4 linked regions of the Homo sapiens genome follow. The protein of the gene in region 2 interacts with the protein of the main gene of each other region in a pairwise test. Each region holds a gene or a part of one and is shown on either strand. Other genes may lie near its edges.

Evidence for each region. The genes of interacting proteins can lie anywhere in the genome.
Region 1: the proteins of H4C5 (region 2) and KDM4A interact in binary tests that used the Homo sapiens proteins (3 or more experiments, as listed by UniProt).
Region 3: the proteins of H4C5 (region 2) and NAA40 interact in binary tests that used the Homo sapiens proteins (3 or more experiments, as listed by UniProt).
Region 4: the proteins of H4C5 (region 2) and RRP1B interact in binary tests that used the Homo sapiens proteins (3 or more experiments, as listed by UniProt).

The regions. Positions count from the first base shown.
Region 1 is NC_000001.11:43,656,649-43,660,148, reverse strand, and holds part of KDM4A (lysine-specific demethylase 4A), read right to left. Parts: intron 1-3,500. UniProt on the Homo sapiens protein: Histone demethylase that specifically demethylates 'Lys-9' and 'Lys-36' residues of histone H3, thereby playing a central role in histone code. Does not demethylate histone H3 'Lys-4', H3 'Lys-27' nor H4 'Lys-20'.
Region 2 is NC_000006.12:26,203,197-26,207,266, reverse strand, and holds H4C5 (histone H4), read right to left. Parts: upstream 2,658-4,070; 5' UTR 2,623-2,657; coding exon 2,311-2,622; 3' UTR 2,246-2,310; downstream 1-2,245. UniProt on the Homo sapiens protein: Core component of nucleosome. Nucleosomes wrap and compact DNA into chromatin, limiting DNA accessibility to the cellular machineries which require DNA as a template.
Region 3 is NC_000011.10:63,945,502-63,949,001, reverse strand, and holds part of NAA40 (N-alpha-acetyltransferase 40), read right to left. Parts: intron 3,163-3,500; coding exon 3,067-3,162; intron 2,567-3,066; exon of another isoform or gene 2,303-2,566; coding exon of another isoform or gene 2,201-2,302; intron 2,052-2,200; coding exon 1,999-2,051; intron 1-1,998. UniProt on the Homo sapiens protein: N-alpha-acetyltransferase that specifically mediates the acetylation of the N-terminal residues of histones H4 and H2A.
Region 4 is NC_000021.9:43,666,060-43,669,559, forward strand, and holds part of RRP1B (ribosomal RNA processing protein 1 homolog B), read left to right. Parts: intron 1-3,500. UniProt on the Homo sapiens protein: Positively regulates DNA damage-induced apoptosis by acting as a transcriptional coactivator of proapoptotic target genes of the transcriptional activator E2F1.

The DNA of each region.
Region 1 (3,500 bases), on a different chromosome or scaffold from region 2:
TCAGTCCCTCAACGTCCCTTCCATGAGCACTGGGCCTGAGGAAGCCTGAGGAAGGTAATGTACACACAGATGTAAACCGGTCTTCCTTAACAAGCACAACATCCTCAACTCTCTGAAGAGACTCTACTTAAACTACACCTTGCTAGATTCAGGTGGCCACCCAGGGAGAAAATGGGCTTACAGACCAAGACCCAAGGTCCCTACATATCCACAGACAACCAAAACCCAGCAGCATGTGAAGAGCTAAGGCTTTCCAACAGCATTCACCTCCCTGAACCAGCCAAAAGGAAGCTGCTCCAAGAGGGCTCATTTGTAAGTACCCCTGCTATATGCCCAAGCGCCCTACGCAGTGGCTGACACTCACCAAGTAATCACTCCTAAAAACAACAAATATTTTAGTAAAAATATAAAATAGCTCTAAAAATATAGATTTTTGCACATCCAATATTCCAATTAGGAAAATACGTACTCACATATACGCATATTTATATCTACCTATCTACATAAAGCCATAAAAATATCTACACTTTGGCCAGGGGTGTGGCTCACACCTGTTATCCCAGCACTTTGGGAGGCCTGGCGGGGGCGGATCACCTGAGGTCAGGAGTTCAAGACCAGCCTGGCCAACATGGTGAAACCTGGTCTCTACTAAAAATACAAAAATTAGAGGGGCGTGGTGGCACACGCCTGTAATCCCAGCTATTTAGGGTGGGGGCTGAGGCAGGAGAATTACTTAAACCCAGGAGGAGGAGTCTGCAGTGAGCTGAGCTAACTAACGCCACTGCACTCCAGCCTCGGCCATAGAGTAAAACTCTGTCTCAAAAAAAGAAAAGAAAACTATACCTTAAAAAAAACTATACAAGATCCTTGCTCTGCTGCCCAGCCTGGAGCACAGTGGTGTGATCATAGCTTACTGTAGCCTCGAACTCCTGGGCTCAAGCAATCCTCCTGCCCTAACCTCCCGAGTAGCCAGGACTGCAAGTGTACACCACCACATCTGGTGTTTTTATTTTTTGTAGAAATGAAGTCCTGCAATGTTGCCCAGGTTGGTCTCAAATTCCTGGCCTCCAGTGATCCTCCAACCTCGGCCTCCCAAAGTGATGGGATTATAGAAGTTAGCCAATGCACCCAGTCTAAAAATATCTATACTCTTTAGCTTAATACTGAAAATTTAATTAAAAAAAAAAAAACTTCTTTTAGATTCAAACTAGCCAAGTACAGTGGCTCATGCCTGTAATCCCAACACTTTGGGAGGCTGAGGCAGGAGGATCACTTGAGCCCAAGAGTTTGAGACCAGCAACATGGCAAAATCCTATTTCTACAAAAACTTTAAAAATTAGCAGAGCTGGCCAGCAGCAATGGCTCACGCCTGTAATCCCAGCACTTGGGAGGCCCAGGCAGGCGGATCACAAGGTCAGGAGATCAAGACCATCCTGTCTAACATGGTGAAACCCTGTATCTACAACAAATACAAAAAATTAGCCGGGTGGTGTGGCGGGCGCCTATAGTCCCAGCTACTTGGGAAGCTGAGGCAGGAGAATTGCTTGAACCCAGGAGGCGGAGATTGCAGTGAGCCTAAATAGCACCACTGCACTCTAGCCCGCGCCACAGAGTAAGACTCCATCTCAAAAAAAAAAAAAAAAAAATCTGACTAAGTAACTGCCTTACACTTTAATGTCAACCTAGGGAATAATAAATTTTAGAGACCTAACATTCTCTCTGAAATACAATTAACTCCCCTATTGTCAACTAATCTGTTTCATGAATTTAGGTTTTTAGGTTGGGCACGGTGGCTCATGCCTGTAATCCCAGCATTTGGGAGGCCAAGGCAGGCTGATCACTTGAGGCCAACAGTTCGAGACCAGCCTGACCAACATGGTGAAACCCCGTCTCTACTAAAAATACAAAAAAATTAGCCAGGCGTGGTGGTGGGCACCTGTAATCCCAGCTACATGGGAGGCTGAGGTAGGAGAATCGCTTAAACCTGGGAGGCAGAGATTGCAGTGAGTGAGATTGTGCCACTGCACTCCAGCCTGGGCAACACAGCGAGACTCTGTCTCAAAAAAAAAAAAAAAAAGTTATGTTTTTACTTTAAAGGTAATCTGCTATGTATTAGGACGAAAGGAATAGACATAGGGCTGGTTAATTTAAAAGGAAAACAAGTGTGCTAAAAGAAGAAAAAGCGAGACCAGCCTGGCCAATATGGTGAAACCCCATCTCTACTAAAAATACAAAAAAATTGGCCGGGCGTGGTGGCGGGCTCCCAGCTACTCGGGAGGCCGAGGAAGGAAAATCACTTGAACCTGGGAGGCGGAGGCTGCAATGAGCCAAGATTGTGCCACTGCACTCCAGCCTGGGTGACAGAGCGACACTCCATCTCAAAAAAAAAAAAAAAAAAGAAAAGAAAAAGCCTTAACAAAAAGGGAAAAAAGGCTGAGGAGACTGAAGCCCCTGGCTGAATTCCATGTGAGAAACAGAAGGCAGGTGAGTTTGCTCCTCATGTGTAGCAAAAATCAGACAATAAGGATGGCAGGAAGGATACAGCCTTTCACCTGCAGAGCCCCACATTTCTTCAACATGCCTTTATGTAAATTCTCTCATCGGTCAGCAGGTTGGCCAGCAAGGTAGATGTTTTAAGAGTTAAGGTTGGCCGGGCACGGTGGCTCACACCTGTAATCCCAGCCCTTTGGGAGGCCAAGGCGGGTGGATCACGAGGTCAAGAGATCGAGACCATCCTGGCCAACATGGTGAAACCCTGCCTCTGCTAAAAATACAAAAATTAGCTAGGTGTGGTGGTGGGCGCCTGTAATCCCAGCTGCTCAGGAGACTGAGGCAGGAGAATTGCTTGAACCCAGGAGGCGGAGGCTGCAGTGAGCCGAGATCACGCCACTGCACTCTAGCCTGGCGACAGAGCGAGATTCTGTCTCAAAAAAAAAAATAAATAAAAGGAGTTAAGGTGTCAGCCGGATGCAGTGGCTCATGCCTATAATCCCAGCACTTTGGGAGGCTGAGGCAGGAGGATCGCTTGAGCCCAGGAGTTCAAGACCAAACTGGGCAGCAAATAATAAAAAATATTAGCTGAGCGCGGTAGCACATGCCTATCTATACCTCCAGTTACTTGGGAGGCTGAGCAAGGAGGATCATTTTGAGCCTGGGCAGTCGAGGCTGCAGTAAGCCATGATTGCACCACTACACTCCAACTTGGGTGACAGTAGAGACGGTGAAACCCCGTCTCTACTAAAAATACAAAAATTAGCCAGGCGTGGTGGCAGGCGCCTGTATGTAATCCCAGCTACTCGGGAGGCTGAGACAGGAGAATTGCTTGAACCCGGGAGGTGGAGGTTGCAGTGAGCCGAGACTGCACCATTGCACTCCAGCCTGGGGAACGAGCGAGACTCCACCTCAAAAAAAAAAAAAGATGGAGTAGTCAGAGCTGAACAAGGAAACACAAAATTTATTCTCTGTGAATCTCAGGAAAAATGAGAACTAAACATTAAAAA
Region 2 (4,070 bases):
TTTTTTCTTTATCACTTTATGAGTAAAATTTTTCAAGACCATATCATTTAAAATATCACTTCTTCCCTCCACATGCTATGCCTTTTCCTGCTTCAGTGATCTTCATAGCAGTCAGCACCATCTGACACACTGTTTCACTTATTTTGTGTGTGTACCCCCACCCAATAAATATAAATTCTATGCACACATATCGTTTTGTTCTTTCTCATTCACTGCTGTAATTCCCAGAGCATAGAACAATGCTTGGTACATGCTATGTGCTCCTTTTTGTTGCTGTTGTTACATTAACATCCTCATAAAACTTTTTCTCCTCGAACTAGTGCCTTAGCACCAATAACATGATGCTTTTCATATATATGCACGAGCTCACACTTTTTAAAAATGACATTCAAAGTAACTATTTATTTTCCTGATTTCAAAGTATCAGCCTACGGACAACTTGCTGGCTAGAAGAAAAATCTGATTTTCAATGGAACTATCACCCTAAACCAACGGTTTTTTTTTTTTTTAATTTTTTTGGCAGTCTTTCTCTGTTGCCCAGGCTGGAGTGCAGTGGTACCACCTTGGCTCACTACAACCTCTTCCTCCTGGGTTCAAGCGATTCTCCTGCTTCAGCCTCCTGATTAATTGGGATTACAGGTGCCTGCCACCATGCCCAGTTAATTTTTTTATTTTTAATAGAGTCAGGTGTTCACCATGTTGGCCAGACTAGTCTTGAACTCCTGACCTCAGGTGATCGACCCACCTTGCCCTCCCAACGTGCTCGGAATAGAGGCATGAGCCACTGTGCCCAGCCCAAACTTGCGATTTTTCTATCACTTGGAATTTACATAAACCGGACATCATGTGTTTCTGATGTAGTGTACTATGTACATTACATCTGTAAACTGTTCCTGACAGGCATATTCACCCGATTTCAATTAAGTGTATGAAAGTCACTTGTACTTTACAGGACATGGGGAGTACAGAAGCCAAGTAAAACGATTAAGAATCAAGCCAATACAAAACAAAAGCAAAACAAAAACATTCTGTAAGTCTGGTCTCCGAGAAATCAATGTTCAAAAATGGGGAAGTAGGGGAGAGGAGCCTGTTTTAGATAAGAAAACTGGAGACACAACGGAAGTTATGGCTGGATCCTTCTTTAAACAAACCACATCTCCAAGACATCTGGGGCATAACTGTGGAATGACGACATATCTTTTTTGAACAATAGACAATGAGATCCAAGCAGGAAGTAACAAAGACTTTATTTTCAGAGGGAGAAGTAATCCCAGGATGGAATGAGCGCTCTGTGGCAGTGAAGGGGAGCTGGAATATATATATGCCTTACAGAGTCAACCTTACATACAGATTCAGTAGGTTTGGAAAAATTCTATGAGTATTCATGAGGGAGGAGATGAAATCACAAATCCGTCTCCCCGACCAAAATTGGGGGGCTTATGTAGCGAGAAGGGCGAGAAAACAGGAAATCAGGGAGGGATAAGGACGCAATCATGATGGATGAAACATAGGGAGTCTCACGGTCTCGATGCAAGTGATCTGGTGTTTCAGTTCCTGCCTCAGGCAGGAACATGAGTTCCTAAACATGAGTTCCTAAACATTTGTCTCATGTGAGATAAATGCTAAATTTCAAGCTTTAGGGTTTAAAGAGAGTCAAATTCTTTTATTCAAAAAACAGCAAATATCATAACTTCTAAGGGACAACTGGGTTGGCTTAATAGAATTCCGAAATGAATGCTTGCAACCTCTCCTTGCGTGAGCTTATCTACCCCAGGAACTTCTACACACCTAAACTCGGTCGTTAGGTTAAGTAATAGAAAACAGGCCGCTAGAATTTAAGGCCCACACTCCTTTCCAGGAAGATGATTGGTTGCGCTAATTCGCGGGTCCGGCCCATTGCCAGGCACCGGCTTTGTTCTTCGCTCTCCGCCATTTTGAGCGGTTACGCAGTGTCTTGCGGTTTTCCCACTTATGTCGAAAACCATGCATTTTTAGGTACTCAAAATAAAAGTGGTAAGGTAAACAGACACTATTACCCTAGCCTTTTCAGTGCAATCTAAGGCCCTACTACAATAAACATAAAAGGATCGTAGCCTAAAAAATCGTATGCCGAAACCCCAAATGTAATTTGGAACGAAAAAAAAAAAACGGCTGAAAAATATACGTACCTGTTGACAGGAACAATTAACTTATAAAGAGACCAACCAATCGTCTAACAAGTCATGAGCTCTTTTGCGGAAAACTGTGGGCGGCCCTGAAAAGGGCCTTTGATTTGGGAAGTCGAGATGCTGAGTCGTTTAAGCGGTAGCATTAGCCGCCGAAGCCGTAAAGAGTGCGTCCCTGTCTCTTCAGCGCGTAGACCACATCCATCGCTGTCACTGTCTTGCGTTTGGCGTGCTCCGTGTAAGTCACAGCATCACGAATCACGTTTTCCAGAAACACCTTCAGAACCCCGCGAGTCTCCTCGTAGATGAGACCAGAAATGCGCTTGACACCCCCGCGACGAGCAAGGCGCCGGATGGCAGGCTTGGTAATGCCCTGGATGTTATCTCGCAGGACCTTACGGTGACGCTTAGCGCCTCCTTTACCCAGTCCCTTTCCGCCTTTGCCGCGACCAGACATGACCAACACACCAACGAAAATAGCCGCAAAAATCTGAAAAACAAGCGACGGTAGTATTCTTATATGCCGGGAATTCGGACCTAAATGAAGACTGAAAACGCGCATACGGGAACTTTGGTGCTGCCTGCTGGCCCTACCCTTCACAGATCAGACTGGGATGACGTCACCAACGACTCCAGTTCCCGCCGGCAGAGTCCGCTCTCCATGGAGTCATCTCTGCAAGTCTTGCGTTCCCAAAGAGGAAATTTAGGCATATTTTAACAACTAAATGAGATTAAATACATTAACATGTTTAAAATCATTTGCTGCTTGGGATGCTCTAGGACGATTGAACAGGAGCTTTGGCTCACAAGACCGGAACTGCAGTAATCTCCTTCCATGAGGAGTTCAGCTTTGTCCCCATAGGCACGGTTCCTCTGGCATTTCTGCTGCTTGCTCTCTTGGGGACGGAACCCCCTTAGGAAGTGTTTGAAAACTGCAAGATCTCACCCTCTCCACCACCAAGCCAAGGGAAATCTGACCAAAAGGATTTTCCTCCCGAAGAGAAAAACACGGATAATTAGTGATCCCGCCGGGCGTTGTGGCTCACGCCTGTAATCCCAGCACTTTGGGAGGCTGAGGCGGGCGGATCACCTGAGGTCGGGAGTTCAATACCAGTCTCCAACACGGAAAAACCGCATCTCTACTAAGAATACAAAATTAGCCGGGCCTGGTGGCGCATACCTGTAATCCCAACTACTTAGGAGGCTGAGGTAGGAGAATCATTTGAACCCAGGAGGCAGAGGTTGCGGTGAGCCCGGATCACACCATTGCACTCCAGCCTGTGCAACAAGAGCGGAACTCCGTCTCAAAGAAAAGAAAAAAAAATTTTTGATCCCATGAATTCTGGTCCTCGCTGTGGACGCCCGTATTACATTTTTGGCTTATTTTTCTTTCTTCCCTGTTTATTAAAATTTATAATTATCATTTAAATATCTAGCCAACTCGCACATCTAAACCTAGAAACTCACTGGTGTGTTAATGTTTACTTCTCTATTGTTAGTTTTCTGTTCTCTTTGATGCTGGTAGCAGCCTTTATCACAAGAGAATTGGCAACGTGTAATGGGCCAAGTTATTAAATAGGCGACTTCCTACAGGCTTTTAAAATAAAAGGTGTTGGGACTCAGAAAACAATGCTACAAAATGAAGGCCTCCGTAGTAACTTTTTCTCCTTCTCCTACCTTCCTCTTTCTCCCTCCCATTCTTCCCCGAAGCTAGCTATAGGAACTAGACTGCTTCCTTCCCAAGATGGAACATATAAACCAAAGCTAGACTCAAAGCTAGCCATAAAACCTAAAAAATATGAATCCAACTTTCCTTCTGCCTTTTTGTGTAAAAACTGGCAGTAAAGAAATTGCCTGGCCTACCTCGTTTGATTGTAGGTCATAAGACCCCGATTCAAGAGAGGG
Region 3 (3,500 bases), on a different chromosome or scaffold from region 2:
CCTATGTCGCCAGGACTGGTCTTGGACTCCTGGGCACAAACGATCCTTCCAACCTCAGCCTCCCAAAGTGCTGGGATTACAGGTATGAGCCACCACACCTGGCCCAGGCCCATTTTTAAATAGAAAATTGAGGAACAGAAAGGTTAAGTAATTTGTTCAGGGTCAGCTGGGCACAGCACTTTAGGAGGCCGAGGTGGGAGGATCACTTGAGGACAGCAGTTTGAGACCAGCCCGGGCAACATAGGCAAGACCCCTTCTCTACCAAAAAATATATACATTTTTTTGAGATGGAGTCTTGCTCTGTTGCCCAGGCTGGAGTGCAATGGCGCAATCTTGGCTCACTGCAAGCTCCGCCTCCCGGGTTCACGCCATTCTCCTGCCTCAGCCTCCCGAGTAGCTGAGACTACAGGTGCCCGCCACCATGCCTGGCTAATTTTTTATATTTTTAGTAGAGACGGGGTTTTACCGTGTTAGCCAGGATGGTCTCGATCTCCTGACCTCGTGATCCGCCCACCTCGGCCTCCCAAAGTGCTGAGATTACAGGCGTGAGCCACCACGCCCAGCAAATATTTTTCTTTTTAAAGAAGAAAAGTAATTTGTTCAGGGCCAAATAGCCAGGAATTGGCTTTTAACAATTATACTGTATACTCAGGGAAAGAGCACTAGATTGGAAATTAAAAGCCCCTCAGCTGTCAGGGGAAACTCCATAAACTCAGAAAGCTCATTTGACTCTCTGGGCCTCAGTTTCCCATGCATTAAATGTGAGTGTCAGCCTAGATAATTTTCCAAGTTTGTTTCAGCTCAATGATTCTTTGCAGAGAGAATAATCAGTCCTGAAGAGACATCAGGCCAGGCGCGGTGGCTCACACCTGTAATCCCAGCACTTTGGGTGGCTGAGGCAGGTGGGTCAGTTGAGGTCAGGAGTTCGAGACCAGCCTGGCCAACATGGTGAAACCCCATCTCTACTAAAAATACAAAAATTAGCTGGGCGCAGTGGCTCACACCTGTAATCCCAACACTTTGGGAGGCTGAGACAGGTGGATCATGAGGTCAGGAGTTCAAGACCAGCCTGGCCAAGATGGTGAAACCCTGACTCTACTAAAAATACAAAAATTAGCTGGACGTGGTGGCGGGTGCCTTTAATCCTAGCTATTTGAGAGGCTGAGACAGAGAATTACTTGAACCTGGCAGAGGTTGCAGTGAGCCGAGATCGCACCACTGCACTCCAGCCTGAACGACAGAGTGAGACTCCGTCTCAAAAAAAAAAAAAAAAACCCACAAAAATTAGTGAGGTGTGGTGGCACGCACCTATAATCCCAGGTACTTGGGAGGCTGAGGCAGGAGAATCGGCTGAACCCAGAAGGCGGAGGTTGCAGTGAGCCGAGATTGCGTCACTGCACTCCAGCCTGGGTGACTAAGCAAGACTCCATCTCAAAAAATAAAAGAAAAATTTATCTAAAGAGACATCAGTCTGAGATTAAGTGCAATCTTTGCTCATTTATGGATTCTTCTGCCACCCTACCTGGGGGATTTTATATCAATATAGGGCACGAGTCAGTTTCTGCTTTTGTTTTGTTTTGTTTTGTTTTGTTTTGAGATGGAGTTTCACTCTTGTTACCCAAGCTGGAGTGCAATGGTGCTATCTCGGCTCACTGCAACCTCTGCCCCCCGGGTTCAAGTGATTCTCCTGCCTCAGCCTCCCGAGTAGCTGGGATTACAGGCGATCGCCACCGTGCCAGCTAATTTTTTGTATTTTTAGTAGAAATGGGGTTTCACTATGTTAGCCAGGCTGGTCTCGAACTCCTGACCTCATGTGATCCACCCACCTCGGTCTCCCAAAGTGCTTGGATTACAGGCGTGAGCCACCGCACCCAGCCCTGTTTTTTCGTAAATACGAAGAACAATGAGAAAATTTGTGTCTGAGGAAGCCTACTCTGGAAAGGGAATTCCTGAAGACACTCGAGGAGACAGCAGTTGGTAATGCTCAATGTGACTCACCCGTTTCTATCATATTTCTTGAACACTGGGAAAGCCTCCAGAGGGTCTCCAAGCTGTGGAGGGAAAGAAAAGAGGAACAGCACAGACAAGTGGGGCGGAGGTGCAGATCCTATCCCAAGAGCTGTTGTCTTGGAGTGGGATGCTGTGGGGACCCACAACGGGAGACTAACTTCAGAACCAGGAGCAGCCTCCCAAAACCCACCATTTGCCTAGCTCTGAAGTCACATGTGCGAGGAAGGCTTTGGTGGAAAGGCCCAGGAGAGTTAAGTTTGGCATCACCTGACAGGGCAAGAGGAGACCTCATTAGCCTGTGGGCATACAACCTGCTCACAGCACAGCTAACCCAAAGAAGAGGCTACCTGATCTGCTGCACACTGACTTTACCTGGTTACAACTCCAAATGGAAAATCAAGCCCCTGAGCCACATCCTTATAAATGAGTGTTTACTATGAGTGGGTTAAAAGAATGACCAAAAAATGGGATACTAAATGGAGGCAGGGGCTGGGCACTGTGGCTCACGCCTGTAATCCCAGCACTTTGGGAGGCCAAGGCAGGTGAAATGCTTGGGCTCAGGAGTTCAAGACCATCCTGGGCAACAAGGCCAAACCCCGTCTCTACAAAAATTACCCGGGTGTGGTGGTGGGCACCTATAGTCCCAGCTAATTGAGAGGCTGAGGTGGGAGGATCACTTGGGCCCAGGCGGCAGAGGCTGCAAGGTTGAAGTGAGCCGAGATAGTGCCACTGCATTCCAGCCTGGATGACAGAGTGAGACCCTGTCTCACACAAAAGAAAAAAAAATTATCTAGATCCTCCTCTATTCATAAGGAAGAAGATCCACAGGGAGGCAGCCACTTCACTGGAATCCACGTTTTCCCAAACACCTGGGCCAACTGCTGGCGCCAACTTCCAACACACAGGTATGAGCTCAGTTCCCTGCACAGCAAGGAGGCAGAGGCGGTGTGGGTGGGTAGTGTCACAATTCTGCCACAGGGTGGAGACAAAATAAGTCAAATTATAAACCAAGCTGAAGTCCCAGGAGGCAGGGACTGGGAAGAAAGGGAGAATCACCCTGTTGGCAGCGTCCACTTTGGCACAAACGGCATCCATGGCTGCTCGCTCCTCCAACCGCTTCTGCTTCTTCTCCTTGGCTTTGCTTGACTTTCTCTGCAACAGGGAAAAGCAACGTTAGCTGGAATGGCTGTGGCCAATCAAGCACTGACTTTCCCTTTAAGGAATCGAAGGGCCCTGCATCCACAGGCCTGGCCCAGCAGTGAGAAATTTCCCACCTCTGCTGCCACACATTTGGAGGGGCGGAAAGACCCAAGCAGGTCATTTTGTAGTGGGGAGTCCTCAGAGGTCACCAGACTTCTCAGCTTCCCTTCAGAAAGAGCACTGGCCGTCCTGACACAGACACTGTGGGGACCCAGCGAAACAGCTGACAACGCCTACAGCAGGCCAGCCCCCAGCAGGCACTTAGTAAATATTCACTCACCCGCTCCCTC
Region 4 (3,500 bases), on a different chromosome or scaffold from region 2:
CACCTTCAAGCAGGGTGTGGAGGGACTCTGTGGTCTGGGTGGGGCTTACCCCACGTGGAGAGGCGGCGGCTTCTGCCAATTCAGCAGAATTCCCTTGGCCACAGGACAGGTTCAAGAAAAGCCAAGTGACCCTCTGCAGGTAAAAATCTTCTTGCTCAGTCCTTAGGAGTTTCTAGCTCTCTCCTTACTGGACTTGAAGAGAACACACAGTTTGTACCTGCTCCCAGCCACCTTGTAACACAGGTGGAGCCTGTCTGAGAATGGAGACAATCTTTGGGGCAGCAGAGGTTGCAGTGGAGAAAAACAAGGTGCTGGCACCAGCAGTTGAGCTCCTGCACAAAGTTGTGCTTCACTTTCCCCCTTAAAACTAGCATGGCTGCCAGGCCTGGTGGCTCACGCCTGTAATCCCAGCACTATGGGAGGCCAAGGTGGGGGGATCATGTGGTCAAGAGACTGAGACCATCCTGGCCAACATGGCGAAACCCCGTCTCTATTAAAAACTACAAAACTTAGCTGGGTGCGGTGGCAGGTGCGTGTAATCCCAGCTACGTGGGAGGCTGAGGCAGGAGAATCGCTTGAACCTGGGCAGCAGAGGTTGCAGTGAGCCGAGATTGCACCACTGCACTCCAGCCTGGGCGACAGAGTGAAACTGTCTCCAAAAAAAAAAAAAAAAAATCCTTAATAGCATGAAATATCCAATCTGTTTAGTTTTTCTCATCAAATGTTTTTTATGAGCAATCCAAATGAGGACCACCCACTGCATTTGGTTAATATGTCTGCCAAGACGCTCTTAAAATCTAACAGTTCTTACCCATCTTTTTCTGTACAGTTTATTTGTTGGGGACATAGGTCATATGCCTTGTAGAGTTTCACATATTTGGGGTTTGTTGACTGCATCCTGTTGTCTCACTTACCATGTTCCTCTGTCCCCTGTATTTCCTATAAACTAATATTAATAGTTAAGATTTGACACAGTTGGGTGTTTTTTTTTTTGACACTTACTTTTGTAAGAATACTTCATAGGTTGGTGCAGCGTTCTTCCTGTTGGCATCACCTCTGGCATCTGATGCGTGATTATTGCCTGTGCATGTTAATGATCGGTCGGTGGGTTTGGGTGTTGATGGTCTGACACATCCACTTTCAAGTTTCTTAATATCGTTTGTTTGTTTGTTTGTTTGTTTGTTTGAGAGACAGAGTTGCTCTGTTGCCCAGGTTGGAGTGCAGTGGCACGATTATAGCTTACTGCAGCCTCAAATTCCTGGGCTCAGGTCATCCTCCCACTTCAGCCACCTGAGTACTTGGGACTACAGGCACATGCCACCATGCTCTGCCAATTTTTTGGTTTTGTTGTTGGTGTGTGTGTGTGTGTGTTTAAGACAGGGTCTTGCTCTGTCGCCCAAGCTCCATGGAGTACAATGTTGTAGAGATTGGGTTTTGCTGTGTTGCCCAGGCTGGTCTCAAACTCCTGAGCTCAAGTGAGCCGCCACGCCTGGGTGATATCTTTTCATCTAATGTTTTAGCAGCTATTTATGATCCTTGCCCAAAGCCTTCAATTCACTGGGGATATATGTGGTCTTTGAACATGATTAAATATAAGTGCAGGTCACTGTGGCCAAGAAAAAAAAAGTTACTGCAATCATGACCGCAGTTGGCTCAGCTCTAGTGGGGTTTATTACTCATACCATACTTACATTATCCACGTGAGGATCCCCAGGCATGACTTGTTCATAACAAGAGGGCAAGAGAACCAGTTGGTACATCTTCTCTCCAACTGTGAAAGGGAATATACTTTAATAAACTAGTTTTATGTTAGTTCCTGATATCCTGGTTTTACATGGAAAACTATCATAAAAGAATCAAAATGCAGGCCGGGTGTGGTGGCTCATGCCAGTATTCCCAGCACTTTGGGAGGCCGAGGCCAGCAGATCACCTGAGGTCAGGAGTTCCGGACCAGCCTGGCCAACATGGTGAAACCTTGTCTCCACTAAAAATACAAAAAATTAGCCAGGCGTGGTGGCACGCGCCTATAATCCCAGCTACTCTTGAGGCTGAGGCAGGAGAATCGCTTGAACCCAGGAGGCAGAGGTTGCAGTGAGCCTAGATTGTGCCACTGCACTCCAGCCTGGGCAACAGAGCAAGACTCTATCTCAAAAAAAAAAAAAAGAATCAAAATGTACCATTATAAAATTGTTGATGGGAGAAAGACCCTTAGCAAAGTGGAAATCAATACCTGTAAATTAAGGTTAACGCACTCTGAATACACTAAACAAACTTTGGTCCATTAAAAGGTCTTTTTGTCACTTTTTTTTTTTTTTTTAAGAGACGGACTCTCGCTCTGTCGCCCAGGCTGGAGTGCAGTGGCGCAATCTCAGCTCACTGCAAAGTGCAAACTCCACCTCCTGGGTTCACACCATTCTACTGCCTCAGCCTCTGGAGTAGCTGGGACTATAGGCGCCCGCCACCATACCCGGCTAATTTTTTTTGTATTTTTAGTAGAGACGGGGTTTCACTGTGTTAGTGAGGATGGTCTTGATCGTCTGACCCCGTGATCCGCCCACCTCAGCCTCCCAAAGTGCTGAGATTACAGGCATGAGCCACCGCGTCTGGCCCTTTTTGTCACTTTTTAAGCATCTTTTGGAGTATTAAGATCACATTGATTCTAAATATTTGTTTGCATTCATCTAGTTTATAGCACTTTGTTGCTCCAAAAGATTTCTCCTAGGATCTCCTAGTAAAATCCTAATAAAGACCATTTGTAACACACATCAAGACTTGAGGATTCTGTTTGTGTTCTAATTTCATGTATCCATAGGCTCGGAAACTCCAAGACTGTACACCTACCTTATCATTTTGTGATTCTTTATGTCAGTCAGCAAATACTTTATGACACCTGGGGTCTACTCAGGAGATTTAAGGCTGAACGAGACTGGTCACTCAATCATAGATCATGAAGGCAGAGGTAGAGCCCTGAGTAGCTAGAGTCAGAACAAAGCCAACCCTGGTGATGCTGCAGTAAATGATCACCGTTACAGGGAGGGTGATTGACAAAGCCAACCTGGTGATGCCACAGTAAATGATCACCGTTGCAGGGAGGGTGATTGACAAAGCCAACCTGGTGATGCCACAGTAAATGATCACCGTTGCAGGGAGGGTGATTGACAAAGCCAACCTGGTGATGCCACAGTAAATGATCACCGTTACAGGGAGGGTGACTGGGAGGCAGCCACTTTTGACCTTATACTAGGATCCTTAAAAGGTAATTTTTGCAAAAATATTCCAAAGCAGCGTCAGTGTCCCCAGGCCCTTTCCTAGGCCTTTGACTTTCAGATGTACTGTTTGGAGCTCCTGTGTCCTCAGCCTGGCTGGTTTTCTGTTCCTCGGAAGTGGGGCTGCCCGTTGCTGGGGCTTCATATGACTTGAGCAGGTCCCCCGCATCTCTTGTAAGATTTGCAGTTTTACTTCACAAGACCAGCGAAAATGTCAGTGTGCAGGATGGCTGC